Homo sapiens: one gene and its partners. The protein of the gene in region 4 interacts with the protein of the main gene of each other region in a pairwise test. Each region holds a gene or a part of one and is shown on either strand. Other genes may lie near its edges. The genes, in order: NAALADL2, TMEM59L, PROM1 and ITM2B.

What was found.
Region 1: the proteins of ITM2B (region 4) and NAALADL2 interact in binary tests that used the Homo sapiens proteins (3 or more experiments, as listed by UniProt).
Region 2: the proteins of ITM2B (region 4) and TMEM59L interact in binary tests that used the Homo sapiens proteins (3 or more experiments, as listed by UniProt).
Region 3: the proteins of ITM2B (region 4) and PROM1 interact in a protein complementation assay, tested with the Homo sapiens proteins (one study listed by IntAct).

Annotation. Positions count from the first base shown.
Region 1 is NC_000003.12:175,806,697-175,811,633, forward strand, and holds the end of NAALADL2 (inactive N-acetylated-alpha-linked acidic dipeptidase-like protein 2), read left to right. Parts: 3' UTR 1-3,852; downstream 3,853-4,937. UniProt on the Homo sapiens protein: May be catalytically inactive.
Region 2 is NC_000019.10:18,607,257-18,616,244, reverse strand, and holds the start of TMEM59L (transmembrane protein 59-like precursor), read right to left. Parts: upstream 3,376-8,988; 5' UTR 3,287-3,375; coding exon 3,116-3,286; intron 2,374-3,115; coding exon 2,229-2,373; intron 2,142-2,228; coding exon 2,050-2,141; intron 271-2,049; coding exon 118-270; intron 1-117. UniProt on the Homo sapiens protein: Modulates the O-glycosylation and complex N-glycosylation steps occurring during the Golgi maturation of APP. Inhibits APP transport to the cell surface and further shedding.
Region 3 is NC_000004.12:15,982,107-15,990,328, forward strand, and holds part of PROM1 (prominin-1 isoform 1 precursor), read right to left. Parts: intron 7,719-8,222; coding exon 7,626-7,718; intron 5,611-7,625; coding exon 5,557-5,610; intron 3,932-5,556; coding exon 3,851-3,931; intron 3,723-3,850; coding exon 3,654-3,722; intron 2,250-3,653; coding exon 2,157-2,249; intron 1-2,156. UniProt on the Homo sapiens protein: May play a role in cell differentiation, proliferation and apoptosis. Binds cholesterol in cholesterol-containing plasma membrane microdomains and may play a role in the organization of the apical plasma membrane in epithelial cells.
Region 4 is NC_000013.11:48,263,459-48,271,332, reverse strand, and holds the end of ITM2B (integral membrane protein 2B), read right to left. Parts: 3' UTR 976-7,874; downstream 1-975. UniProt on the Homo sapiens protein: Plays a regulatory role in the processing of the amyloid-beta A4 precursor protein (APP) and acts as an inhibitor of the amyloid-beta peptide aggregation and fibrils deposition. Plays a role in the induction of neurite outgrowth.

The DNA of each region.
Region 1 (4,937 bases), on a different chromosome or scaffold from region 4:
TTTTTTTTTTTTTTTTTTAATTCCCACAACAACCCATTTCAAAATGAGAAAACTAGGTTGAGTGACTTGTCCACAGTTCCAAAGCTAATAAAAATGATGAGGCATATTTCTCTTCTGGGCCCACTGTATTCAGTTCTTTGTTCTTTACACTGAGTGCCGAAAAAAAAAATCAGACTATTTTGATTCTAGAAAGTGAGATAATTGAAAATGTTAACATATTTCTCCAAAACTGATCAGACTGTGGAGTCTGTCACTTTTTTGGTATAATAAAGGAGTTTGAAGAAACAAATGACATCATTCCTGATGATGGTAGCCCACTCCAACAAAGGCGTATATATGTAGGCAAGTTTGAAGATATCTATAAGAGCATTAAAAGGCAAGTGCACCATTGTGGAATATCATGACGAGTAGGCTTACAAACAGTAAAAAGAGACCAGAAACCACAAGTCTTACACTTTCATTCTCTAAATGCTTATATAATTTCACTAAAAAAAGAAAAGCAGGTGCTGTGATTTAGAACAACAGTTTTATGTTATTTTTAAAAATTCAGAATAACCAATTGACTTTTTAAATTAAATAAACGTAGAGCATATAGTAAGTTTCCCCACAGGAAAGACAGATGTTAACAAAAATAAAATAAATGATTATTTGTGACCATGTTACTAATGATGAATCAGCATCTTTGCCTCAAATGAAAATCTATAATTATTTGTATGATAAATTGGTAGACCTAGCCAAAAATGTTCTCATGAGACATTCTGTGATATGTGTAATTGATTACTCCAAAAATTAAGCTTTCTCTGAGGGTAACACATTGTCATCTCATTGGTTTAATGGGCTATTTAAATGTGCCTTAGCCACACATTTGCTTAATAGAAAGGAATTATTTTAAACTACCAATCCATATGTTGAGTGGAAAGGAAGTTGGCCCACATATTCCAATAAATATATCAGCAATATAACAGTTTCATCATGGGACCATGGATACAGTGCAGGGAAAAAACAAACAAACAATATTTGAGAAAATATATATATTCTGCCCAGCCACACTGGTGAGTTTTTATTTCTTGTATGAGTTTAAATTGCCAACTTAAAAAAGCCTCATTAGAATTTGCTATTCGAAAAGACCTTAAAAACCCTCACAGAGTTCTAAACATCCCATTCATTGAAAATAATTTTCAGTTAAGTAGATTTGTTTTGTGCACTTCACAACTTTTAGGTGACATGAATTTGAAGCGTAGCAAAAGAAATGTATAAAGATAGCCTTTTCTGGTCATTACCATGTCTACTCAAGTTTCTGTTTTCTAGGTACACTCTAGCATTGTAACTTTTTCCCCCTGAGAAGTAATTTTAAGATCTATCAGTCTCAATTTAAATGATCTGTTAATCAGCCAGAGTTTTAGTTTCATAATATCGTTCCATTGCCTGACAAAGATATACACACTGAAGTGCCTTTAGCAGACCTGGGACCGTCAAGAATCTTGTTACCCTGATTATTGCAAGATGACATATTTCTTAAGCCATTTATAATCTCATATTCGGGTTGAATCTGAATTTACAAATAAAAGGGTTAAATTGAGGCAGTTTCAAGCAGCATTTAGGAAAATGAAGTGGCTTCAAATTTTAGTGTTTCTGGTTACATTATTTTGTTTGAATTATACAATTACATAATTTTCTGTAACCAAAATGGTAATTTTGATGGATTTTTTAAATGCCAAAATCCAATCATCAAGGCCAAAGAAATGCATGATTACTCTGATTTCTTATGCACCATTCAGTCAAGACTTAACTCAGAGGCAGTTGATTCAGTGCTTACATCTAGACAAAGCTTTAATGAGTGCAGACCCAGCCTAACAGTATTTCATCTAATTTCTTTGATGGCTTAAGCCAATAAGCACTGAGGTAGCTTTTCTCAGAAGGAAACAGATTTTATTTTCCAGGGGCTAATTAATATGCACCACCTAAGTCCCCAAAGGATCACACAGGTGCCTGTATCATGCCATATGTCATGTGCTATATTCCTGCAAGCTCAAGAGATTAATATACAATCATTATTATGAATTATTATGTTGCATTGAAGTTAATGTCGGTCTTTTGTTCTAATTAAAGTACAAACGTGGCATCTGAATAGAAGCTTAGCTAGAGAAGTGGAGTTAGAGTCCCTATTTTAATGAACTACATATATTTTTCAATCAAAATGTGTAATTATTTAATTATCTAGCCTGCTCAGTAATCATAACTCTCCAACTTCTTCAAAGGGCCTTTATTCAATATGTTACCACTCATATGGTCATTACTTGGTAAGTGTTTTATATTTTGAATTTCTTAGATGCTTTCAGTGTATGTGCTAGTGTTTTATTAATATTAAAAATTTTTGTTTACTTATATATCAAGCTGCTGCAAATGGACTACCTTATTTTAAAAGTTAGAATAAAATGCTATTACTCTCTAAACAGAACTTTAGCATATCTGTTTGATAAGAAATACACAAACAAAATATTTTTCTATGCTATTGCAAATTGTCCGCAGGAAGCAAAATGCCAGATGGTTAAGTGTAGCTCACATAATTATATTCCAAAGGTGTTATAAACAATTCTATTTAGCATCTGAGATAGGTCTATATTAGGCAATTTCATGTTTACATTTCTAACAGAAAGGTTTAATGGCAAATATTCCTTATATTCTAACTTGCTACTTGGAGAATATGGATATTCTGAAAAGAAAAACCCTTTCTAGAACACTGTGCAGGACTAATTTTTTTTTAATAGACATCCAGAAAATAGCCTGGGCAACAAAGTGAGACCCTGTCTCTCTTAAAAAAAAAAAAAAAAAAAAAAAAAAAAGAAAAGAAAAAGTAGCTAGGCATGTTGGTGTGCACCTTTGTAGTCCAGCTACTAGGGAGGCTGAGGCGGAAGAATCATTTGGGCCCAAAAGTTTGAAGCTGCAGTGAGCTAAAATCATGCCACTGTAGTCCAGCCTGTGTAACAGAACCTATCTCAAAAAAAGGAAAAGAAAGTCACATGCTGTTGATAGTAGTTTTATATGTATTTGGAATGTTAATATGGGACACATGCATTTAATACTTTAATCATGTATTCAATGTAGCAGCATTTAGATATGTAAGATTTTAGAAGTAAAATCTCAGTGGTATAACATTTAAAACACAGCCTTAAAATGAAGAATAGGGATGAGCAGGAGAAAATTTATAAATTAACCCAGGGTAAAATTTGGAGGAAAATTTTTCCAAATAAATTTGCTTTGATTAAAAACACATATCTCTCAAGAGGTGTCCCAATTACTAAATTATGTTGAACTGTTGTGGTGTTTAGCCTTGTTCAAAATGATTTGATTATCATCTGGATTCAGAAATCTTTTCATTGTACAGAGATTTCATTGTCATTGTCGTTGTTGTTAACTGATTTTTAATGATATTGATTTAGAGGCATTTGTCGGTAGTTTTTAAATTACTATATAGGGTTGAATGTCTAATTTCTATAATGTGTGGATGCCCATCAGATATTTAGTGCATTCTATATTTAGCCCAAGTGTGATCACAATTTATTTTATAACTTTTTATGTGTTACTTACATGACTCAATATGCATCTTACTTAAGAAATTATGTTGTGATCTGGAGTGACACAAATGGATTGAGATACCACATCCATTAAAAATATAAGTGAATATTTTATATTTAAGTTGTTTAAATATTTGCACATTATTGAAAACATAGTACTAGGAAATGAAGGCACCATTTAACAAACGTGTTCTGAATCATAATTTTCATGAGTTTGTACGTGAAATGTTAATGTTTAAAACACCCATTTTGAAATTATTAAATACAGGTAAAAACATTGCTATACTGTGTTTTTATGACAAAATATACAGTATTTTATGTGTGCACATGAATTAGTTATTACTCTATTTTATTAATGAATTATTTTTACATAATATATATGACAGCCAAACAGGTGTTCACTTGTTTAGGGAAAATTCTATAATATTTTATCATCTTTTTTTGTCCTTGCCTTCCATTCTTTTCTTGAACATTTAGTTAGATTTGCAGTTTGTGACAAGTTCCATCAAGTAACAGTACCTGTATCAACTGCAATGTTAAACAGTTTTGTTTTCTCAAATTTGCTCTAAAAAATGCTCTCAGTTATTTTTCACATAGAAAAGAATTTTCTGTTTGCATGGTGAGTGTAATAGATTTCATTCATTTATTCATTCAGGAAATATTTGCTAAAAGACTCTTCTAGTCCAGGCACTGTATTAGGCACTAGTGATACAAAGATGATTAGCACAGATTAGCACAATTTTACTTTTGGAGCTTTACAGTCAAATAGGATACAACACTTCAGTTTAACTAGTAGCAATATCCATAGATAGTACAGTTTATTGCAAACATATTGGCAGAGCAGAGACGGTTTAAAGGTGCCATATGTTCAGGCCACATGCCAGTCCCACTGGACCTTCCTTAAGACTCTCTAAAGAACAGTGCTCTTTCTCTAACATCTCTGCTATACAATAGCCTGCATTTGGTACGGGCATAGCACTGTGTCAGACTCTGGTTGCCAAGCATCACTTGGATGAAATCTTTTAATCTTTAAAAAAGCCTATGAGATAGGTGTTATATCATTTTGTCCCATTTGATTGATGATAAAACTAATGGTTAGGGCAATTAACAACTTGTGACAGTTATTATACTACTATATACACACAACTACATAGCTATAAAAAACTTTTAAAAATCTGCAGGAATATATATATATATATATATATATATATATATATATATATATATAGTGTGTATATAGACACACACAGAGGAGGTAATATTAAAACAACATATAAAGTTATGTATTACTCATGGATGTGTATATATATATTCAAAATATTAAAATCCAGACTGAAAAAAATGAACACCTTGTTTAATTCA
Region 2 (8,988 bases), on a different chromosome or scaffold from region 4:
GCCTGAAGCTCGCCCACTGTGGACTTTGCATCTCATGAGCTAAGAGCCAATGCATCCCATCTTCTTACCCTGCCCACCCATCTGCCACTCTGGCGTGGCCCCTGTCAGAGGTCTCACCTGAAACACCACCACTTTCCCATTGTCAGTCTGCAAGTAGTATGTCCAGGTGGAGGAGACAAATCCCTGGGCTGAGTTGACAAGGTCATTGCAGAGGGTGGAAAACAAGTCCAAGAGGGAGAGGGCCCCACTTGGAGCCTCCAGGACCTTTCTCTGGTGAAAAAAGGTCCAAGACACAAAGATGGCACCGAAATAGGGCATTAACCAATGAATGGGAGGGGGCAGGATGTGGTGGCTCACGCCTGTAATCCCAACACTTTGGAAGGCTGAGGCAGGCCGATCACTTGAGGCCAGAAGTTTGAGACCAGCCTGGACAACATCGTGAAACCCTGTCTCTACTAAAAATACAAAAATTAGCCAGGCATGATGGCGCACGCCTGGAATCTCAGCTACTCCAGAGGCTGAGGCAGGAGATTTGCTTGAACCCAGGAGGCAGAGGTTGCAGTGAGCCAAGATCACACCACTGAACTCTAGCCTGGGTGAAAGAGTGAGACTCCATCTCAAATAAATAAATGAATAAATAAACTAACAGGAGAGGAGCTAGGAGAATTCACTTGGATTGGATGTGGCTAAGTGATTTGGGCCAATAGGACTTCTTATAGTGAACACAGATCTCAGCGTGGCAGTTGGCTTCCTGTGTACCCTTAGGGAAGTGGATTGTGCTCTCTGAGCCCTAAAATGGGTATCGTTCTCTTCCTTCATGGAGTAGCCATGAAATTTCAACTAGAGGATGCCTGCCAGGTGCCTGGCACGGCACAGGCACTTAATGCGTAGTAGTCCCTATTACTAAAAATATCATCATCCTCATTATTCTTATTTTGACAGCGTCAAGACGGAGGTCTGATGGCCGGCCATGGTGGCTCATGCCTGTAATCCCAGCACTTTGGGAGGCCGACGTGGGAAGATCACTTGAGGTCAGGAGTTCAAGATCAGCCTGGCCAACATGATGAAACCCTGTCTCTCCTAAAAATACAAAAATTAGCCGATTGTAGTGGGGGGTGCCTGTAATCTCACCTACAAAGGAGGCTGAGGCAGGAGAACCACTTGAACCCGGGAGGCGGAGGCTGCAGTGAGCCAAGATTGTACCACTGCACTCCAGGCTAGGCAACAGAGCAAGACTTCATCTCAAAAAATAAATAAATAAATAAGAGGGAGCTCTGAATTGGAAGGGCTGACAGTGCAGTGAGCTTTTCTGAACAGCAGTGAAAGCTGGGAAGGGGTGGAGGAAAATGGGGGAAGTGGGGAAAGGGCTTTCTGGGGAGTCCCAGCCCCTAGGTCTCTGGCTATGCTACATGATTTTCTGTGCCTCAGTTTCCCCATGATGCAGCATTGCTTGGACTACAATAGATGAACCGTTATTATTTCTCCCATAAGGCAGTGTGTGCGTGCTTGCGAGGCAAGCCTGCTCTACCCTGAGCCGCAGTTCTGAGCCCCTCCAGGTGACAGTGACCACCAGCTCATCACAGGGGAAGGGCTTAGACCAGCACCTGGCAGCTCTGGGGGCGCCTAAGAGGAGTGAGGTGAGGAGTGGCCACAGCTCTGGTGGCTTCAAATCTCGCCCCTTGCACAGCCCTGTGTATGACCTGGGAGGTTGCCCCCTGGGCACTAAATGGGGGTGACATTGTCCTTTGTGCCTCCAAGTGACACAAAAACATTTGGGACAGGTTGAAGTCAGGCCCGAACCAGGACAGATGTTTGATAAATGATGGCTGTTTTCTGCCACTTATTCCTGAAAAGGTGGTGGGGCATGGGGGGCGTTGTTGCATGTAACTAAGGCTGGAGACATGACGGGGCTGGATGGAGGTTGCCCTGCAGGCCTGGTATAGAACGCAGAGTCTGGCAGAGCCTCTGCACGTGAATGAAGATTTCCCACGGGGTGAAGAGGGTGGGGGTATTGGGAAAAGGGACCCCAGGCCGCAGTGGGAGGCCCACCTTCTGCTCCGGCTCAGGCTCCGCGGGCTGGCTCCAGCAGCCGTGGCTACAGGCCTGCTGCTCTGCCTCCTTCACATAGGCTTCCACGCAGGCTGTGGGAGGTGGGAGCGGGTGACTGGGGACGGCCCTTCCCAGGCCACCTCTCCCCACGCTGGCCCACCCTGCCGGCGGGCCCTCACCTGCTTCACACTCAGTTTGGGTGGCATTGGGCTTGGAGCTTCTGGCCACAAATCGGCAGATGGAGAAGAGGCGGCAGCCACGCTCGCAAGCGCTGATCAGAACGGCTCTGTCATAGGGAGACTCGGAGGCGCCCTCCAGCCCCGCCTGGGGGAGGGGAGGACAGGGGGCTCAGGCCATGGGGAGGGGCAGGAGGAGGGTGGGGGGACCGGAGCATTCAGCAGAGGCAGGGAAAGGCTTCCCCGCTCCCCACGACATCTAGCCAGATGGAGATGAAGTTGGGAGAGGCTACAAATATTAGTGGGGGCTCTTAGCTCTGAGGAGGGAGATGGGGAGGGAGCTTGAGAAGAGAAATGGACAGTGAAGGTGGAGAGAAATGAGCCTTCCCCCCACTAGGTTCCAGGGAGGAGGGGAGACATGGAGAAGGATTCTCAGACCTGGAGGAGGAGGGGGAGGCTCAGAGGAGGGGGTTTTGGTCACACGCAGATCAGGCTTGAATCCTGGGGAGTGGTGGTATGAGTAGGGGCTGGTAGCTCTGAGTGGGGAGGGAACACGATGTGGAGGAGGAGGAATGAGGTGGGGGGACCATCAGGCCTGAGGGAGCTGGGGGTTGGGTGCTAGAGGGTCCTTACCCAGCAGAGTGCGGAAGGAGCCCGGGAGGTGGTATCGGCCCCTTATCGCAAGGACCTGCATCCCCAAGCACTCCCCCATCAGAGGGAACCCCAGCCCGTCAACTACTGGAGAGATCTCCCCATTCCCGACCCCCACCTCCCCACGGACACCCCCACCAAAGTCTCCTGCTGTCATCCAAGAGAAGCCCATCCCAACGCCTCCTCCTTCGGAGAGATCCCGCGTCCCCCGCTGGCACCTGGCACCGCACGCGCCTCACCTGCGAGGGCTGCGGGCCGAGGTCGCGGTCGCGGCACCGCAGCTGGCAGTTCTGCGTGTCCCCGAGCTGGGGGGCGAAGGGATCGCGGGCGGACGGCGCGGAGGCGGCGGGCGGCGACGCCAACAGCAGCAGCAGCAGCAGCGGCGGTGGCATCAGCGCCACCGCAGCCATGGCCGGGCGGAACGCGGGGGGCGCGGGGGACTCCAGCTCAGGCCGGGCACGGAGGATGCAGCGGCTGCGGCGGGGACCGGGGCGCTGACGTCACCCGAGCGAGGCAGCCTGGGAAGCGGGGGGTGGGAGATGCGGAGAGCGGGCGGGGTAGCTGCGCTGCGGCACCCGAGGCGTGCGGGTCGGGCGGGGCAGGTGCATCGCGGCCCCCACCGTCTATCCCATCGCGGGGGTCCCAGGACACCTCCCTGGTGCCCACGGGCGGGGGATCTCTGCTGGCGCTTGGGGCCAAAAGGAAATATATAGGGGGATGGGATGGAGGGGACTATTCCCCAGGGGTGTCGAGGAGAGCGGAGAGCTTGGCGGAGGAGGCGACGTGTGAGCCGACCACGCGGGAGAGAGGAGAAAGGGGTGTCCAGGCTACAAGGATCAGCGAGGATCCTGAGAGAAAGAGCTTGTTGCAGGAGGAGGGAGGGCGATGGGGCTGGAGTCCAACCAGGGAACGGAGAGGGAGGAAGGTGAGAGCCGCAGGACCCGGCAGCTGAGTCCTGGCATCTTCTCTTTTGACACCCAGGTTAGAAAGGAGACAACTTGCGCGCAGTTTGCCTCCTCCGGGAAGCCCTCTGAGCCCCTCCCTTGCTCCTTCAGCCTCGCCTCCCTCTGGCCCAGCCCTGATCCACTGACCTAGGGAATCTGGCCCTGTCTCCCCAAGGCTGGAGACCCCTGGGCTGGGGCTTAGTGGGAGGGGACACAGAGGTATGCTCAGGAGCAAGGGGAGGGGGTGATGCTGACATGTCTAATTCTCATGGGAAAACGGGGCAAATAGCGACACTTCTGACTTCCATAACCATCACACCCCAGGGCGATGGACTGTAGCCCCAGGAGCCGAATCTCGGTTAGAGGGTACCCCCAGCTTCCTCTCCGCCAGATAAGGGAGTGGGGACGCCCCTCTAAACCCGGATCCTCTGCAAAGATGCCCCCGCTTTCGCTGGCATGCCTGGCGCAGGTGCCTGCAGCGCCGCGCAGCAGCCCGCAGGTCCCCCACCTACGCTCCGCCCCCGCAGACGGGGCGGCAGCCTCGCAGGGTCTGCGGGTTAGAGGGCGGCTCAGGTTTCGGCCTGGGAAGAGGGTGTCCCGGGTGGGGGCCCGGCGCACCCCCTACTCTGGCCTGCGGCCGCGCTTTCATCTCAGCGGCCCCCGGCCGGCCCCCACGTGGCTTAATCAGGCGCGGCTGTGCCTGGCGGACCCCGAACATCTGGATCCCGGTGCGGCCCCTCCCCCGCCCCGCCCCGCCCCTCCCCTCCCCTCCCATGCTAGGCCGCTGCGACCCGGCGGCGAGGGCCTCCAGCCCGCAGTTTGCGCCAGAATCCAGCAGGAGAATTCCGCTTCTAACCCACCCGCGCGCCAGGCCCGCACCTTGGGAAACAGCCCTGTGCGTTATGACCAATACTGTCCCCCATTTCACAGGTGGGAAACTTAGGCTCCGGGACGCGTTGGCAAAGTCAGGATTCAAGCCCACACATGCTAATTCCAGAGGCCCGCGCGCGCCTAACCCCTCCACAATTACTGTCTTTCATTCATTCCAACGAAACACTTTTTCTTGCAACAACCGTATAAGACAGGTACCGGTAGCGTTGCCCTTTTATATGGGTGAGGAAACTGATGCTCAGACTGCAAAGTGGTTCTGTCCAGGTGACAGGGAGAGAAGCAAAGAAAAGCCGGCAGAGCCCTGCCAATGATGGGAGGTGACCTTTGGGCATTGCTTAAAACGCATCAGGGAGGAGGGACACCCCGCGCCCTTTTGCAGAAGGAGAAACTGAGGCTGGAGGAGTGGGTCGATCACCCAGGTCGCCTGAGGGGAGAAGGGAAAGAGGCTGATTGCCGCACACCCAGCCCCCTTTCCGCTGCACTAGGCCGCTGGGGGGGTGAGCGGAAAGAGGACTTGACCCCGGCCCCCAAGGTGAGCCCCCGCGCCCCTCCTGCTGTTCCCGGGGGAGCCGGTCCAGGTGAGGGGCGGGAGGGCCGGCGGGCGGCCAGGGTCGGGTTTCAGGAAATCCGCCGACATTCCTTCGGGGCTTAAGAGGGAAAGTTGACTCGGCGCCGCCCTCGCCCCCCCCCCCACTTCCTACCCCCCGGGGCGGCCTGGCTGGGGGCGGCAGGCGGGGGGCGCTGAGGCCGGCCTGGGCGTGAATCAGCGGCAGGCCAGGCGTCCGGGAAGCCACAGCAGCCGAGGTCAAGGCGGGCAGCGGACAAGCACCCTTTGTCCCTTGCCGCCCTCACCACGACCCTGCTGACCCCCACCTCCAAGCAGGGTACAGGCCAGGGAGGAGGCAGAGCACCATGGCGCCGGTGGTGGTTGCTGAGGGTTGTTGGGGGAGGACGGAGGGATGTGGCTGTCCCCCTAAAGCAGCTGGTGCCTCCTGGGACCCAGACTTCAGAGGCTTCTCAGGGTACAGACGGGCAGGGAAACTGGCCTCCCTGGGGCAGGCCTGCAACTTCCCAGGCAGGTCCCCTAGGCAGGTCTGCAACTCCCCAGGTCCCGCCTCCAGTGCCTGAAGTCCAGTGTGCATTACACTGAGCACCCAGGCATTGCTTCTCCCCAGGCTCAGCCTCCAGGGCAGAAATTATAAAGCCTAGGTACACACGGGCCCCACTTTCCTGTGCCACAGACCCTGAACCAGGTGTCCAGACCCTCACTGCCCCTTAATTCCTGAAAGCACCTGCCTGGAACACCAGGTAGCTAATCCCATACTGGGGAGCCCTGAGCACGGGGCTTTCAGAATGGGAGAGACAGCTCTCAGCCTTCCTCACTCCCAGTGGTTGTGGGTCCCCACAGGACCCTGAAGGTGCCATTTCCACTGCCCCCTCCCTGGTGCACCCTCAGTGCCCTGGAATCACGAGGGAGCTGGGGATGGAGGCCCCCCCCCCAACCTAATACCTCTCATCCAGAGGTGACCTTGGAGTGGAGGGTGCAGGACTAAGGAGGGGTCCCTCCCCCAGCCCAAGGGGAGGCCCTCCCTCTGCCCAAGGGGAGGCCCTCCCTCCTTCTGCCCCTTACACATTCCCAGCCAACTTCAAGGACTTGGGTCAATATTTGCCAGAAGTTCCATTGACGCTAGCTCCCTTTTGTCCTCAAGGAGATAATGGAACTGGGGAGTAAAGGGTTAAACTTCTGGGGGCCCTAAGGGCCGGGAAGGATGCACTCTGGGGTCAATTCCCTTTCCCTGAAGTCAAAGGTGTGGGGTAAAGATCACCCAAGGGCAGAAGTCACACTCCAGGGTGGGGCTGGGCAGGATTGGAAAATGGTCCTTCCCTTCTGTTGGTAAGAACAAGAGAGGGATGTCTACTGGCTAGGGTCACACAGCAAGACACAGAGTGTGGGCCAGGCTAGGACCCCAGGCAGCATGACTTGCTAGGACTGAGTTTTCTTGCTACTTGGAGGGAGTAAGAGTTCTCCATCCTTTACTTTTACAAATATTTAGTGAGTGCTTCGCTTTCAGCCCTCACTGGGCCCACCACTGGGGTCCAAAGGGGCTGAGGCTGCCCACAGTCTAAAGAAAATCAGTTGCACAAGAAATGAAATGGTTGGAAGAGTTGTGTTTCAAAAACAATAAAACAAAGTGAAGGAGAGGGAGAGTGCTGGGGGAAGGGTGGAGGGCCTCTCTGAGGAGGTGGCACTAATCCTGTGAAGTGATGGAAGAGAAAGGGCCAACTGGGGAAGATGTGGGGAACAGCATTCCAGCAGAGGGAACAGCCAACACGCAGAGGCCCTTCTATAGTAACAAGCCTGGTATGTTTTGGGAAACAGGGCTCCAGTGGCTGGGGCGGAATGAGGGAGAGGAGGGGGAAGAGGAGAGGGAAGAAGAGGAGGGGAGAGGATGGCGAGAGGGTGGCAGGACAAAGATCTGCTTTTTCTTCTTTTAAAAGCTCCCTCTGCCTGGTGTGCCGAGAAAGGCAGAAGGGTTATCAGGGAGGCCCTGGAGGAGGCCGGGAAGCATCCCTGAGGGAGACCGTGGGGCCTGGATCTGAATGGGGTGGGAAAAAGGGGTCAGCATCTCAGAATGGAGATGTGTTTTAGAATCAGAGCCAACAGGATTTGCTGATGAATTGGACATGAGGGATGAGCAAAGGAGAGAGTTGTCACGTGCGCTTCCAGGTCTCTGGCCTGAGCACCTGGATGGATGGGAGAGCCCTTTCCCAAAACCAAAATGACTGGAAGAGAAGCAGAAATGGAGGGAGGAAAAAATCAAGGTTTTGCTCCAGAAGCCTGAAGTCCTCCCAGGAGGGAGTGAGGCGTCTCTATCCACACAGAGAGCATCTGCAGACAGGAGCCATGGGGGAGTAGTGGTGAGTATCCTAAAAACTCAATTCCAGCCAAGGACTGCCACCTCCACTTAACCCTCTGGGTCCCCTGGCAGGTGGGACTATGGCTCCATGTTTCAGAGGGGACAAGCAGGGCTGGGGGTCACCTCTGCTCCAGGATATCCTCCAGTGCTGTGCTAAGGGCTTGGATTGTAGAGACTTCTGCTGCCCTGCGTCTTCCCACAGAAGCTCCTAGACTGGGTGGTGCCCACTGTGCAGAGGAAGAAACTGAGGCACAAAAGGCCTGGTTTCCCGAAGTAAATGGCAGCGTCTCTCCTTGTCTGTCTTCTCCATCCAGAATTCAGATGGAGCAGGGGCGCCCTGGGCCCCTATAGGCTCCCATCCCCCAATCTTGTTTTTTGACAGTCTGGAGTCTGAACTGGAGATTTAAGTAGGAGAGGGTGGGGCTTCAGTCTTGGGCAGACAAATGGGGGCTCCTGAGCCCCCCTCAGACACTTTTACCCCCTTGGCTGGTTGGGGACCAGGAGAGAGAATCCAGGCCTCTAAGGGACTCCTGGAAAAGGGGACTTGGAGCCGTTCCCTTCCCTGGGCGCTGCAGCTGGGGGCGGGGCTGCGACCAAAAGTGGGTAATTGCACCCCCCAACTCTCATTTCAGGCACCCCCATCCGCAGCAGCCTTGGAGGCCAGGAACCCTTTATTCCTGGGCGCCCGCATCGGGTGGGGACCGGGAGGAGGGAGATGAGACGCCCGGACCGGGAGGGGTCCCGAAACTCGAGCAATGGCCAAAAATAATAACACGGAGAAGGCTCTTTGCGCAAAAGAAGGAAGACAAACTATGCGTCGCTCCGGGCAGCCGGCGTTACCTGGAGTCGGCGGGCGGTGGCCGCCGAAGCGATTACTCACCGCGTGGCGCACCCCACCCGCGGGCCGCTGAGTGGATTTTTCCGTGGCGGGGTGTGAATAGGTCCCGGGGAAAGAGCTTCTTACCGCTCTCCTCCTGGGAATCCCTCTTACTGCGGTGCGGGACCCAGTTCCCGCGCAGGCCTGGGTCCCGGCTCCCACAGGGGACTACATCTCCCCGTCTGCCCACGCAGGAGCTCCCTCCCGAGGCCCCCGGGGCGCCCAGAGCAACCTCAAACCCATCCCGCGCGCGAAGGGGACAGCGCAGCCAGGGCGAAGGCGAGGGACTCCGTGCCTTCCTGCTTTTTCTCCTTTCTTCCAGCAAAGCCTGGGGCCGAGGCTACTCGCGGAGAATCGAAAAGAGGCAGGATGAGGTGGGAGGGCTGGAACCCGCGCGCCGAGGGCGTGGGGCTGGGGGTGACTTTTAGGCCCCTGGGAAGGCTGAGGGGCTGGAGATGGGGGTAGGCGGGACTCAAGGACCG
Region 3 (8,222 bases), on a different chromosome or scaffold from region 4:
CCTGCTATGTAAATCTACAACCTGCCAACTTCCTACGTAAGTTCGAGTCTGACAATATCCCTGCCTTAGAATAATGCTGTCAGTAACACTAGAACGACTCTCCCCAGCCCACCATGAGGCCAAATGCCACTTGGAAATAACACCTGCTTCACCCTCACAGCTTGACCCTGCATTTCTGCTTTGCTCCTGGCTGAGTTCAGAATTACAGAGGTGGCACCACCTCTTGGCTCCTAACTTCCAGTCAATTTGTTCCCCCTTCCCTCTATGTTCTGTTAGATTTCTGTTTTCAACCTTGTCTTGAGAAGCTTTATAACTTTATAACAACCTTATCCTTTTTCTGGAAGCTGCCTCAATCCTTTTGGGGACAATTGAGATACAAAATAAACATGTTAGCTAGCCCACAGTCTATCGTATTGACTAAATGGATGCCCAGAGCTCTTCCTTACGATGTAAACCCTCTGCTACACAGCTCCAGCCTATGATCTTCCTGAGCAGCCTCTAGGCCTCCCCTCTGTCCCTGGTGATCTGTGGAAAGGCATCTGGTGGCTATGTGGTTCGACTGAATGGGGTGGGTGGTGGAGGCTGGACATAGAGAGACGTCAATTCAGAATCAAGCAGGTTGGCTCTGGACTCCCCTAATGAAGGCTTCAGCCAAAGCTGGCGGCAGGGGCCACCAAGCACAGGACAAGAAAAGTAGTTGCAAGAAGAAGGAAGCATCCAGGAAGCAGGGCCTAGGGTCTGCGTGGTTGGGTCGGAGGCAGAATCCTTTTCACTCAGGCATGAAAGACCCTCCAGCAGACAGATGGACAAGTGAACGAGGGAGGTGGACAGACAGGGCAATAGGGATGAACTGTGCCAGAGAGCTACCTGACAATGCATCAGTGATACTCTGTGCCAGGTATTATGCCAGACAACAGGGACACAGCCTTGAATGCACTGGTGACTCATGGAGTGGAGAGTCTAGAGTGTGCTGGAGAGACAGGTCTTAATCAAAGAAACATATAAATATGTAATTGAAACAGCAATAACATCTCTAAAGGAAAAGCATAGAGTTCTACAGGAATGAGGAAAACGGAGCTCAGCCTAGTTTTGGGGATCAGAAAAGGCTTCCTGGAAAAAAGACATGTTTGAGCTAAGACCTGAAGGCGGAACAACAATAGTAGTGAATATTCATTGAGTGCTGATGTTCCAACAGCGTGAAGGGCTTCACATGTGACCTCTCACTGAATCATCAAAACAGCCCATGTAGGCGAGGAACTCAGAAAATTTCAGGAATTTTTCAAAGTCACAGAGTTCTGAAAATGTAGAAGTGGAATTTTCATTCAGAGTTGATGTTCTCCACCATTGTGTTACCAGACCTGGAGGAGTTAGGTCTTAAAGTGGGGAGTGGGTAGGTGGGAAGCGGAAGAGGAGAGAGAAAGAGAAAGGCGGCGTGTGCCCATCTCCAGTCCAGGCAGAAGAAACGGCATGTGCATGGGCCCTAAGGTGGGGAAATTGAGATTTATTTGATGAAGTGAAAGAAGATGAGTATGTCTGGAGCACAGAAAGAAAGGCGGGCAGGCAGAGAGCACACAGTGAGATCTGGAATGGGGAGGCTCAGCCATGCAGAGCCTAGTATGGGCTATGAGGAATCCTGATCTTTAGATAGCAATGGGAAGCCACTGAGGTGCTTTCAGCAGAGGGAGAGGATCCACTCACAGAGAGAGTCAGCATCTGTTGAGGAGGGAACAGAGCTGAGGATTAAGCCTGACTAACTGGAACTTACCATCCCAATAGTCACATTTCTAAGGGCTTTTTAATGACAAATGAAATTTGATGCAACTTTGGGGTTGTAAATGTAGTTGTACTGAGTATTCTTTTGAAGATGAGAAATCTGCACACCCGTGACTGTCTTTCTGATTATTCTGAACTAACAGGAGTTTTCTCCCTGCAGGTCTCCTGACTCATAAATATAATCCTAGTGAGGAAAGAAGACAACCGCCCAGAACTTTGACTTTTCTAGTCTATTAGCATCTCAATACACTGATCAAAATATTACATTTTAGGTTTTGGATTCTCTCAAGCAGAAAACAAATATTATAATGTATATCATAATCCAGAAAAACAACCAAAGATGATGGATTCATTGTGTCTTCTTTTGAAAGATGAAATCTTACCAAGGGGTCGATAATGTAGCTACACAGAAAGACATCAACAGCAGTATCTAGAGCGGTGGCCACAGGTTTGCACGATGCCACTTTCTCACTGATCTAGGGGGGTGGAAACACAGGGAAACTTTGAGCTGCATCCACAAAAACCCAAAGGAATGAGACGTGCCATTTACTTTTGACTTGGTGTCACAAAAAGGATCTCCATGTCCTCTAAGACAGGGGTCCCCAACTCCTGGGTCACAGATGGATACCAGCTAGTACCGGTCCACAGCCTGTTAGGAACTGGGCTCCACAGCAGGAAGTGAGGGGCGGGTGAGCAAGCAAAGCTTCACCTGTATTTACAGCTGCTCCTCATCTCTTATGTTACTGCCTGAGCTCCACCTCCTGTCAGAGCAGCAGCAGCATTAGATTCTCATAGGAGCATGAACCCTATTGTGGAACTGCACATGCGAGGAATCTCAATTGTGCTCCTTATGAGAATCTAATGCCTGATGATCTGTCACTGTCTCCCATTACTCCCACTGATTCTACACTGTGGTGAATTGCATAATTATTTCATTATATATTACAATGTATTAATAATAGAAATAAAGTGCACTATAAATGTAATGCCCTTGAATCATCCTGAAACTACCTCCACCCCCGGCCTGTGGAAAAACTGTCTTCCACTAAACCAGTCCCTGGTGCCAAAAAGGCTGGGGACTGCTGCTCTAAGACATGGAACTGACGGCTGATGTGCATGGATGAGTTCTGCATATACAGTTACAGTCGGCCCTCCATATCCCTGAATTCTGCATCCATGGATTCAACCAATCATAGATTAAAACATATTCAGAAAACAATGGATAGTTGTACCTTTACTGAACATGTACAGACTTTTTTTAATACAGTATACCAACTATTTACATAGCATGTACATTGTATTAGGTATTATAAGTAATCTAGAGAGATTTAAAGCACACAGGAGGATGTGCATAGGTTATGTGCAAATAACTATATCTTTTATATAAGGGACTTGAGCACCCAAGGATTTTGGTATCTGCAGGGGACTCTGGAACGAATAACCCATGGATACTGAGGGACAATTGTATATATTTTAAAGCAAGATCCTTATTCTCTCTGAGCCTCGGTTTCCAGTTTCCTCATTTGTTTTGGAACAGTGAGACCCAGCCTACAGGACTCTGAGAGAATTAAAAAGTTCTCGTGCCCAGCATAGTGTTTTAGTTCAAATTTGTTACCTGGCCCCTTTGTTACCTGAAAAAGGGGGTGGGAAGCAAATGGAAGAACTGCATATGGCAAAGGTGAGCAAAGGGGACCAGGAGGTGGCTGTCCTCTGACCTGGTGGGAAGCCCCAGAAGTCTTGGTCCTGCACATCAATGTCCTTTCACTTACTTCCTACCAAATTATGGGAAATTTAATTTTATTTCTTCCAGATTTTACCCTAGAAAATGGCTATCCTGAAACTTGACCCCCCTTAACATTCATAAAAGATAAACTACTTACAGAGAACTCGATCCACTGCAGATAATGTTCAAAATATCCTATTATTGTTCTCCCATACTTCTTAGTTTCCTGGAAAGAAACAAAAGATGAGTAGAAGCATTAAAATGATGACAGCATACTTAAACATTATAAATATTTAATCTGTAACATTCAAGTGCCCACTTATGGACACGCTTACTTTAAAAAAGAAGGCTCACCTCAATAATAACAGAGGAAGTATTGTTTGTGATGAAGTTCTGAGCAAAATCCAGAGAAGCTAGAATCCTAGTTACTCTCTCCTGAAAGACACAGCCACAGTTATCAGGGTATCAAGTCATAGAAAGTTTTAATTAGACAATTTGCATATTGATTCAAGTACTGTAACTCAGCTCTGCAACACCACGACCTGGACCTGCTAGTTAAGAGGAAGACAGAACCCACCCAGGCCCCTGAGGGCAGGGAAGGAGATGAGCTGAAAGTGAGCATTTACTCTAGCCCAGACACTGGGCTAGTCCTTGATAGGAATGGCCTTGCTGGACTTGCTGGAAACTCACAACGAGGCAGGAAGGAAGGTACTGTTTGTTAGGTTCCCTTCACAAATGAGGCAGCTCAGCCTCTTCACGGTCACCATGCTGGGGAAACATACGACAATGCTGGGATTTGCACCGAACTTTTTTTTTTTTCACTACAAAACCCATAGTCTTTGCACTACAACACAAGCAAAGACGAGTCCTCTGCCAACCCACATGGCAGCTTGGTGCAAATTGGAAATGGGGCCTTTTCTGCCCAGGGACCTCAGGGCACAGAGCCTGGCAACTCAGTCAATGGCCAGTTTCTGCCCTCGACTAACCCCCTTGGCTGGGCCCCTCATGAAAGGCCTTGCACCACTGCACACCCTCGCCCTGTTCACAGAGGTAGCAAAGCACCTGCACGTAGTCACTGGTGTGTTTCCAGGTTCCCCTGGCATGAGACACACACCTATGAAATGGCAACTGTGATCAGAGGCATAGCGAGGGTCCTGGAGCAGAGTAAATCTAAACATCTTCAAAGGAGCTGAGCCATGATGTTGGTCTCACTGAGAAAAGTGGAAGGAGGAACATTTAGTTTTATCCTGTGGGGCTGATACCCAAAACCTGTCATGTACAGACTATTCCGTTCAATGAAAAAATATCTTCTGAGTTGCCCATTGGTACTGTAGATACAAGATGAATACAACCCAGCCTTGCAGCTCTGTGTCTGCTGAGGGAATGCTTGCAGCCCACACATGGCCCCTGTGGTAGGTAGATTGCATTAGCTGTTCAGGATTATTGATATGCTCCTTGGATGGCTTCCCAGAGCGTGGAGTATACTTCCCCAGCCAGACGACGATGTGTGTGACCATGTGACTTGCTTTGGCCAATGGAACGCTGGTGAAGGGGCAGGGTGCCCATTCTGAGCTTAAAGGACAACCTGTGCCTCCACTCATCCCCTGAACTCCTGTCCTCCACTATGAGGACATGAGGTGCCCCAGACAGGAGCTGCTCCTTCAGGCCGGGTCTCTCAATGGGAAGATGTGTAGAGAAGCCTGCTGTCAAACCAGCAGGGAAAATGAACATTTATACTTAGAAGGCACTGAGGTTTGGGATTGTGTGTTAGGCAGCATTATCTCTGTGAAAGGGACCAATGTACCTTCCAAGCTTGCATCCTACACATCAAAACATAGATTTCACCTATGTATCTAATAGCCTGCTAAGATGAGGTCTGCACTTAGAGAAGTACTTGTAGAAAGGAAATAGTAGGAAAGCCCAATTTGCTATTTAAAATAGGTAGATAACTGAGGCTTTTTTTTTCAACTTAAAGTACCTACAAAAATCCACATTTCTAGCATTCTTTGTGTGGTATTTTATAACAAAACCCCATGACAGAAAACAAAGTAAACCCTTACCAACAATCCATTCCCTGTGCGTTGAAGTATCTTGACGCTTTGGTATAGAGTGCTCTGGCAAGAAACAGATAATATTTCCAAAATTATTACATGAAGCAGCAAGATCACATACCTTGTGTCCTCCCTTCCCACAAGATAGCCATCAAATCTGTCTTTACACTGTAATGGTTTCATTCTAGAAAAAATAACCAACACAATTAACAATGTGTACTTTCTTTTTTTTTTTTTTTTTGAGATGGAGTCTCGCTCTGTCACCCAGGCTGGAGTGCAGTGGCACGATCTCAGCTCACTGCAAGCTCCGCCTCCTGGGTTCACGCCATTCTCCTGCCTCAGCCTCCTGAGTAGCTGGGACTACAGGCGTCCTCCACCACGCCCGGCTAATTTTTTGTATTTTTAGTAGAGACGGGGTTTCACCGTGTTAGCCAAGATGGTCTCGATCTCCTGACCTGGTGATCCACCCGCCTCGGCCTCCCAAAGTGCTGGGATTACAGGTGTGAGCCACCGCGCCTGGCCAACAATGTGTACTTTCTATGCCTCTGGTGTAAGAAAACCTGAAGAAAACATTGGATACATATCCTAAAGCTGTGAAGAACAGCAAATCACATGTGAGGCATCCAAGAAATCCCTTTGAATTAGGTTTGATCAAAGTGGAAGGCATTATTTAAAGCAGAGCCTGCCCCGCAAGAGTGGTTAACCTGAATGGTTTAGACAGGAGGTTGACAAACTTTATCTGTAAAACACCAGAGTAAACACTTTAGGTTTTATCTGCCATAGTCCCAACTACTCAACTTTGTCCTTGTAATCAAAAGCAGCCACAGAGAGTTTGCAAATGAGTGGGTGTGGCCATATTCCAATACAATTTTATTTACAAAAACTGCTGGTAGGCTGAATTTAGCCTGCAGGCTGTAGTTTGCAGGGTCCCTAGTTTGCCAACCCCTGGTTTAGATCATAGGTCTCAGGTAGGAAGCACTCTGCCTATTTGTGGACAGGTTGCCCTAGCTCTGAAAAGGCCAAAGGGTCCTGTGTACTTGGGAAAAAAGCATTTAAAAAAATGCAAAACCAGCTTAAAATGTTAACAAATTTGTGTTAGGCATAAACCAGTTACAGAAAATTGTAAATAGCACTGGACACAAATTAAGAAAATTCAGTGACAGGACTTTGTGAATAATCTAATAAATTAGGAAATCGAGAGAGAAAAAAAGAGTATTGGAAATTAGTTCTGGGAAGTTTAGTGGTTGGGATGTTCGGATGTTTGGATGTTGGGGCTAAGTGGATTTACTTGCTTGTCCAAACCTGAGCAAGCTGATTCAGTAACCCAGTTTCCACACACTTCTCTCCTTGATGGCTACAAATACGGCCCACACACAAGCATAATATAATAATTCCTCCTCTTTACTGAGATCCTCTGAGGTCAGGTCCTTCATTTCCATGAACAGGTAAGAGCAAGGCAGTTATTGATCCCAACATTTTTAGATGAGGAAACTGAGAAGCTACAATAGTTTGGAGAGCCAGAAGCAGAATTTAAAACCAGGTCTGTCTAACTCCAAAGCCCACATTCTTTCTTTGTTAGAAACTGCCTTTATTGCATTAAGAAAAGAAGCCAGAAGGTGGTGAGAAGCAAATGGAAAGGATGGAAGAGAGGAGAGACGAAGCAACGCCCATCGAGACAGCAGACAGGGCTAAGTGGATCTACACAGAGAAGCACTTAACCTCACCTTCACATATTTCTAGACAAAGCTCGGAGAAAAAGAATCAAGTGAGTCCACAGCATTGTAGCTAAATGCGGGGCATAGGAGGGCCTGCTCACAGCAATGGAAACTAGAGCAAGGTGGAAGAGACAGCCACAGATTTTATCTAACTGTTCACACTCAAATGAAAAACGGAAGGGAATAAGCAGCAGAGGGAGGTGCAATTATTTTGTCTAAAGGCCAGCTCAACTTCTGGGGCTGAAGCCAGTCAGCTGGGACCTATGAGAGATGAGCATGTGTCGTGAGGCTAAATGAAAGCCAACTAGCTGCAGTAGATTTTGCTCAGGTCACAGTGAAATACAATACGTCGTTGACTGTTACCAGTGATTGTTCTATAGGAAGGACTCGTTGCTGGTGAATTGTTTTAATAGTTTGTGCATCTCTTTTCAGGGAGTTCCTCAAATTTCCTGGGGGCTACAAAAAGAATAAAAAACAAAGATCAATACCATCTTTCCAGACTCAAAGCACTCTCGCTATCCTCAGGGGCCCTGTGTAGCCAGGAGGGCTGCCATGACATAAGCATGCAATGATGGCTGTGAGTGGGCATGGGGGCTGGTGTGAGGGATAGTGCCAAGACACCCTCCTTCAAAGCACAGAACCATGGACTCTCAGCAATAACCCACACCCAAGAGCCCTTCCTGAGTGCCAGAGACTGTGTTCTCTCCACCTCACCATGATACAGCCACTCTCAGTTTCCCATTTTACAGGTGAGAAAACCAAGGACCCATAGAGAAATTTTTATTTAACCCACACTCAATGAATGTTTAATTTATTAATGAATAACAATCCTATAAGGTAGATACCATTACCCCATTTTACAGATGAGGAAACTAAGGCAGAAGGGAGAAATAACTTGCCTAAGCTCCTATACCGAGTCAAGACTTAGACCCAGGTCTTCTTCAAGAGCCCAGGTTCCTC
Region 4 (7,874 bases):
TAAATATATATATTTTTTTAATTTAAAAATTTGGCTGGGCGCAGTGGCTTACGCCTGTAATCCCAGCACTTTGAGAGGTCGAGGCGAGTGGATCACAAGGTCAGGGATTCGAGACCAGCCTGGCCAATATGATGAAACCTCATCTCTACTAAAAATACAAAAATTAGCCGGGTGTAGTGGCGGGCACCTGTAGTCCCAGCTACTTGGGAGGCTGAGGCAGGAGAATTGCTTGAACCTGGGAGGCAGAGGTTGCAGTGAGCCAAGATCACGCCAGTGCACTCCAGCCTGGGCGACAGAGAGACTCCGTCTCAAAAAAAAAAAAAAATTAAAATTTAAAAATTACATTAAAATGAATCAATGAGAAGCAGCTACCATTTCCATTTTGTGTCTCTACTATCCAAACCCATTCGACCCCAAAACATGCAGATTTTTTAAAAAAGCAGTCCCTTTCTCAGAGTGTTGTCTCCAAGAGGCCTTTTACCTGTGAATCAGTCTGAATTTCAATATACTCTTTGCCATTTTTTTCCTCCATTGTGATTCAGCACTATCACATTTAAGGGATCCCTACCTAAGAGGTAATTTGAACTTCGGGTATTAAAATAAAGTAATAGATTTTGATTCTGTCTACTGAAGGCACAAGGCCCAGCTCACTTTCTTAACATGGCAACATCACTAGCACCAAATCTGAGGTGTACAGAACTTGCATTCCTGTGGCCATTCCCACTCCCAGATGAAATTCTGAAACTACAATTAAAGAAAAAAAAAAGGGAAAAAAGCCAAGTTTGGTTTTGTTTGTTATCAGTTGCCCCTGAAGTCTATATAACAGAGCCAATTTTTAAAAAGGAGGCTACATAGAACCATGTTAAATTTATTGAACAAAGTTCATTCAGTAAATATTTAGTGAGTTCCTAATACGTGCCAGGTGCTTTACTAGGTGCTGAGGATGTAACATGAACAAAAATAATAAAGTCTCTGTTTTTAGGGAATTTACATTTTATTTGTAGAGACAGACAATAAACAAATACAAACATAAATACATGTCAGATGGTGATAAGTACTATAGAGAAAAATAAGGTAGTGTGGTCATGGCCAGGAAGGCCCCTAAGAGGGCAGAATGGAAAAGTCTAAGAGCAGAGGCATAGATAAGGAGCAATGCTCATAGCCACAGGGATACCTGGGCATAAGCCTTCTTGACCAATGACCATATTGCTCACTGGGCAGCAATATGATAGGGTTAAAGGAAGGGAAGCAGTGCCCACGGTTCTGTGCTTCTCTGCCCTAGTGGACATCTCATTCCACATGGGCTATGGAAATGACCACCTTCTGGAAAAGCCTCTGTGAGAAAAGAAGGGAAGCCAAGGGAAAGCTTGTCTCCAATTACTCTCTCATTTATTCTTTGCATTGTTTATTGGCTGTTTGAGGAATCTTGAGCCAAGTCCTAGTCATTATTTTTGCCCATCCTCGAACTTGAAACAGTCTTCATGGTCTGGCCTGCATTGTGCTAATCTGTATTGTTAAGAATACACTACAGACAGACATTGCCAGCATTGAGGGTGGAGGTGAGACTCACTTTAGAAAAGGTGATCAGGCAATACCTAATGAAGTGACATTCCAGCAGACTTAACTGAAGGAAGGCAGTGAGCCTTGGGATACATGTGAGGGAAGGAGGGTGTGGAATTCCTGGCCCAGAAACAGCAAGTGCAAAGGCTCTGAAGCAGGATTGCCCTTGGTACGTTCAAAGGAAAGTGAGGCAGCTGTGTGGCTGTAGAGGAGTGAGAAAGGGGGAGAGTTACAGGAGGTGATGTAAGAAGAGCTTTGGAGGCCTAGATTACCTACAGGTAGGGCATTGTTCGACTTTTATTCTGAATAAAATGTTGGGATTTGAGCAGGGGAGTGACATGATGTGGCTTAGATTTAGAAAAGATCGCTCTAGCTACTCTGTTTAGAAGAGGCTCTAGGGGTCAAGTATGGAAGCAGGAAGATCAGTTGTGAGGCCATTGCACCAATCCAAGCAAGAGATGATAGCAGCTTTGACTACTATGTTAGCAGTAGAGACAGTGAGAAGCGGCTGAATTCTGGATAATCCGTATCTTGAAGGTAGAGCACACCAGATTGGCTGATGGATTTGATGTGAGGTTTATGAAAAAGAGAGGAATCTAGAATGACTTCCTATTTTTAGCCTGTGCAACTGGAAAAAAAAAGGAGCTGAGATGAGGAAACCATGGGAGGAAAATCAAGTTTGCCTTTGAACATGTTGTATCTGATAATGCCTATTGGACAAGCAAAATGGGAATTTGGAAAAGACAGCAACGTATGCCTTAAGGGGAATTTATATGAGAAGGTACCCAAGTTATACTAGTTTACTTGAAGGGATACATTACATATTTGGTTAGACCTTCCATTCTAAAACAATGAGAAACTGAAATTTATAAATGGTTCTTGGTGTTTGTTATGACTGTAAACCTAATAATACTTGGACTCCTGCATTGTCATGTATTTATTATGTATATTTTACCAATCTACCCTCAAAAAGATATGTTTACAATAAAGATGATTTTGCAATGAAATCATTAAACAAACACTTTTTAAAACATGAGCTATCTACAAAGACTTGTACATGCATGTTCATAGCAACTTTATTCATACTTCCCAACTTGGAAACAATGAAAATACCTACACAGAAAAAAATGATAAATTGTGGTATACACAAAAAATGGAATACTGGCAGGGCACAGTGCCTCACACTTGTAATCCTAGCACTTTGGGAGGCCGAGGAGGGTGGATTGCTTTGAGCCCAGGAGTTCGAGACCAGCCTGGACAACATGGCAAAACCCCATCTGTACTAAAAAAAATAACAAAAACAAACTAGGTATGGTGGCATACGCCTGTAGAGTCTTAGCTACTCGGGAGGCTGAGGTTAGAGGATGGCTTGAGCCTGGGAGACAGAAATTGCAGTGAGCCGAGATGATGCCACTGCACTCCAGCCTGAGTTGACAGAGCCAGACTCTGTCTCAAAAAAAAAAAAATAAAAAATAAATTTAAAAAGCACACACACACACACAAAACCAAAAGAAATGGACTACTACACAGCAACTGAAAAGAAAGAACTGCTGAGTCATGCAACAACATGGACAAATGTCAAAACGTTATACTGAGTTTTAAAAGCCAAACAAAAAGATTATATATGTACGATTCCATTCAAATAAAGTTCAAGAATAGCCAAAAACTGAACTATGGTCATAGAAATGAAAAAGTAGTTTTAGCAGAGGGAAGGAATATTTGCCGGAAAGGAGCACAATGGTATTTTCTGGGGCAATGAAAATGTTTTGATGATTGTTAACATGGACAAAGAAAAGTGTCAAAACTCACTGAGTTGAACACTTAAGATATATGCATTTCGTTGCATGTAAACTATCTATAAAACTCACAACAAAATATGAGCAAACTGAAGGGTTACTTCAAGCCCTACCGAAAGGGTGATATACAGAAAAACCTAGGCTGAAAGTAATTAATCTAAGCACCGAGTTTGGCTCTGAGTTTCCCAGCAACCAAGGCAAAAGGGAAGCAAATGAATTCTTTAGATGTACTACCTAATATTAACATGTATCCTATGTGAAAAAAATTTTCCTAACACTAAATTTTAAAATACTTAGATAAGAAGTACTAGATATGACATAATGCTTTTAACAGCACTTTACAAAAGCTGAAGAAACATTTCTGGCTCATTTTTATTTCTATCAATCCTCAACAAAAGTCAAGAGAATAATATCATGCCATGGTTATACAAAGACATTTCTATGGGGAGCTAAAGGAAGGCACTCATAATTTTTTAGAGTGTCAGCTAGCTGCAGGGCTAGAATCTAGGGACTCATTCCAGAGACATGAAGGATTCTCAAATTTCACAGGCTCATCTTCCTGGATGCCTCAGCAGTGTTTCTGACAGAACTTGGGTTATCAGATAATTAGGGGTTAAATAAAGTGTAATGTTCCCTGGAGTTGATTAAAACTAGATAAGTTGTAGCTGTTACACTAGTATTTGGCTAATTATGTTTTAAGAAATGTTCTAAGAACTTGCCGTATTCATACCCAAATGGAAAACTATTCCTGCATCTTAGTCTGAAGGCTTAATGGATATATTTATCCCTGACATTCTGAAAGCTCTTCTCTCTCCTTTCATGCTTCCCAGCAGGGGCATAATTGGCAAATCAAGAAGGGCAGTAATTTTTTGTGCAGGACTCCCGGACTTTTAAGACATTTAGCATCCTGCCTGGCCTCATCTACTAAATACAAATGGCATCCTCTAGTCCTGTGACAATCAAAAATCCCCCCTACATTTTAAAATGTAGTGCCAATCCCTTTTGATAATCACTGGGCCTTAAAAGAATGTTGGTATGTTTTAAATGTGGAAAACCATCTGGCCCAAAAATACTATCCTAGAAGAAGGTGGCATTATGGAAGAAGACATAATCTTGGCTTGAAACATTTGTGGATATATATACACTTCTGTCATATGAAAATCTTAATATGGCCCCCACAGAACATTTTACTTAAAATGAGGCTCTAACTTTGAACAACAAGCCCATCAAGATGAAATAGCCTCAAAGTATAACCCTTACTAGCTGAACTCCATTTCATGGAGTTAATCCATGAAATGTAGCTCATTCATTCAACAAACATTAATTTCCATCTGAATAATGAAGATTGTCTGCCCAAAAAAACCCCCTTTGGTTTTAGTGAAGTAGATACCGTATTTCCTTTTTTTCTAGCTATAGTTACCAGATGTTTATTCCTTCCTTCAGTGTCAAGAAAACCTATTATGTGCCAAATACTGAGGACACAGTATGAGCATTTTGCTAATAGTCTAGAGGAGGACTTCATGAAGACAGGTGATGAAGTATCATGAAAGGTATGAGAAATAGAGAGCTATGGTGGCATCTCTGAGGAAACTTTTAGTCTGAGATCTGAAAGATGAGTAAGAGTTAACTTTTCTTTGTGGAGGGCAGGGGGTAGAGTGGGGACAGAGACAACTGTTTCAGGCAGGGCTGCAAGCTTATATGAGGCCAAAACTAAAAGGCTAGGATGCAAACAGAGAAATGGTGAGAGAAGTCTAGTGAGGGCAGGATTTTAGGGCTTGAAAAAAGGATTTTCTCTTAAGTGCAGCAGGACACCATCACTGAATCTTATATTCAAGGCAACTCACTCAGACCCATGGGGATGAGATCTGAGGAGAAAGTCAGACAACTGGTTGGGAAATATAATACCCAGAATAAAAATGACAGTGGGCAAGACTAGGGTGGTACGGGAAGGAATCATTCATTCATTCAATAAATAAGAGCTGCAACTATGTGTCAGGTGCCCTACTAACGTATTGAGCAGTCTAGTGGTGGAAATCTATTAACCAAACAAGCAACAAGGACAAAATATAAAATATTAATTATATTCAAGTCACAAAAAAGAGACAGATGATGCTATGAGACTGAGAAACAAGAGAAGCCTTTCCTAATGGTTCAGGAAAATCTTCTCTTGAGGAAGGGTCACCTGAACTAAATTCTGAAGGTTGAGTGGAAGCTAACTGAAGGGTGTCGGGTGAGGAGATGGAAATAATCTTCAGGAAGTAAGAATAGCATTTACCAAGAAACAGTAAGTCAGGCAATGTGGTAGGACACTAGGAGCAAAGAGGGGTGTGATTAAGATGAAGCTGGAGAGTGGGTTGGGACTGGACTGTGCAGCATTAAGTATTTTGGTCTTTATCCTAAGAACCAGGGGAAGCCAGGAAAGTGTTTTAAGCTGGGGTGTGACAATGAAACCATCAAGTTCGTGTTTTGGAAAGATTGTTGTGGCTTACGGGTGGGTGTGGGGAAGCAGAGAGAACCACTAGAGCAGAACAGCAGGAAGCTGCTAGGAGGTGGAGGACACAGTGACTGTGAAGACTGTGGGGTTTCTGGCTTGGGTTTCTTAAATATCCTCCATTTGCGACGGGGATAAGACCACACTGTTTGGAAAGAAGAAGGCGTTTGCATCTGCTTAGTCACTAGGGCAAGAACTAGGTCATTTTGTGTCACACATTATTGTATCGCACGTTAAACTGTTGGGGAATGGGACTGAGGAAGGAGGATGGTAGAAGGGCGGGAACATTTACTTTTTACCTTCAAAAACTGTATTATTTGATATTTTTACAATGAAAATATAAACACAAATGCAAGCTTAAAAATCAGATACAGAAGTCCCATCAAATTATTTTAAGTGGGAGGAAGCTAGGATTATCTTGTTTTATACCACTTAGGTCTCAATTTTGACCCCTAAGCCCACTCCCACTCATCCTGCTTCTCAGAACCAATCTGCAATAGGTGGCTGGAAGATTAAAAGTGTGGAATCTACAACCCATACATGTGTGCTATCAGGAAATAATTTATGGCCTCAAAATTCAGTAAATATTTCAAAAAAAATCTTAAATTGTGCTTAATTTTTTCAGTAAGATAAAAGCCTAAAATGATCAATAGAGAGCTGAGACTAAATCATGCTTCTTCCTCAAAAAAGCATTAGCCACAAAGACTCAGAAAGAAGAACGCTAGCAATAACTTTGGACAAGATATTGAACGAACTGATGGCTGTGTAGCTTTGTGGAAATGAAGAAATGTTCTTTTTCTAAATAGATACACATGAAGTCCTTATCTAGGAACCTAAGTCCCAAAGAGTTAAACATGCAAAGATTAGTGTGCAATAGAGTAGGATTTATATAACTCTGGGCAACAAACTCTTTGCTAGGTGGAAGAGAAGATGTCTAGTAAACTACTAAATGTTCACTTAGCAGAATCTTAGAGATTCTGCCCATATTAATTCATAACCACATTCAAACATAGAATCTAGACCTTTTCTATTCAATAATCCATTTGCCTTTTCATTTGCATTATTAATCAGCCTTTAAGTTTTACACTCCTACTTCTATTATTCGAGATAAACAACATTTAGGACACTGTGTACATTTTTTTTTCTTGCTTCTCACTAATATGGGTGTGGAATCTAAAAAGGGATACAGGGAAAGCAGAAGTGAACAATTACACATTACAAAACAAGATCAGTGTTTGCTTGCTAACATATAGCAGTGATAGGTTTCAAAAAAGGCACTGTCAACAACTGTACAGAGCTGTATGAAGCATTTTCATGCCTATTATTTTAATTCTCAGCCACCTCTTAAGCCAGATTCTCCAGATTCTCACTCCTGCATCACAAAAGAGCAATCACGGCCAACAACTTGTCAAGATTTATATAGTCTCATCTTGACTTCTGTACTTTTTTTTTAAACCAATGCAATAGGGGCAGAATGTGTTGCAAAGCAGCAAACTAGAGCTATCTTAGATAAATAAATAAATACACACACACACACATATGATGGGGTGCATTATGGAACTTGCTATGGTTTGAATGTTTGTGTCCCCCCAGAATTCATGTTGAAATCCTTACCCCCAAGGTGACAGTATTAGGAAATGGGGCCTTTGAGAGGTGTTAGGTCATGAGAGTGGAACCCCCATGAATGGAACTAGTGTCCTTGTAAGAGGAACCCAGAGTCATCTGTGATATAAGGTCACAGAGAGAAGAGAGCTTTCTGTGAGGAAGGAGGACCTCATCAGACACTGAATCTGCAGGTGACTTGATCTTGAACTTTCCAGCTTCTGGAACTGTGAGAAACAAGCTTCTGTTGTTTAAAGCCACTCAGTCTATGGTATTTTGTTATAGTAGCCCGAATGGACTAAGACAGAACTCAAGAAGAGGGAAGGATAGCTGAGTCTCCCTGGAACCCACTGGGAGACCTGGCAGTCCTCTCTGCATGTCTGATTCTCTGTCATCTTCTCATCCACATCCCTCACCCTCTGGTT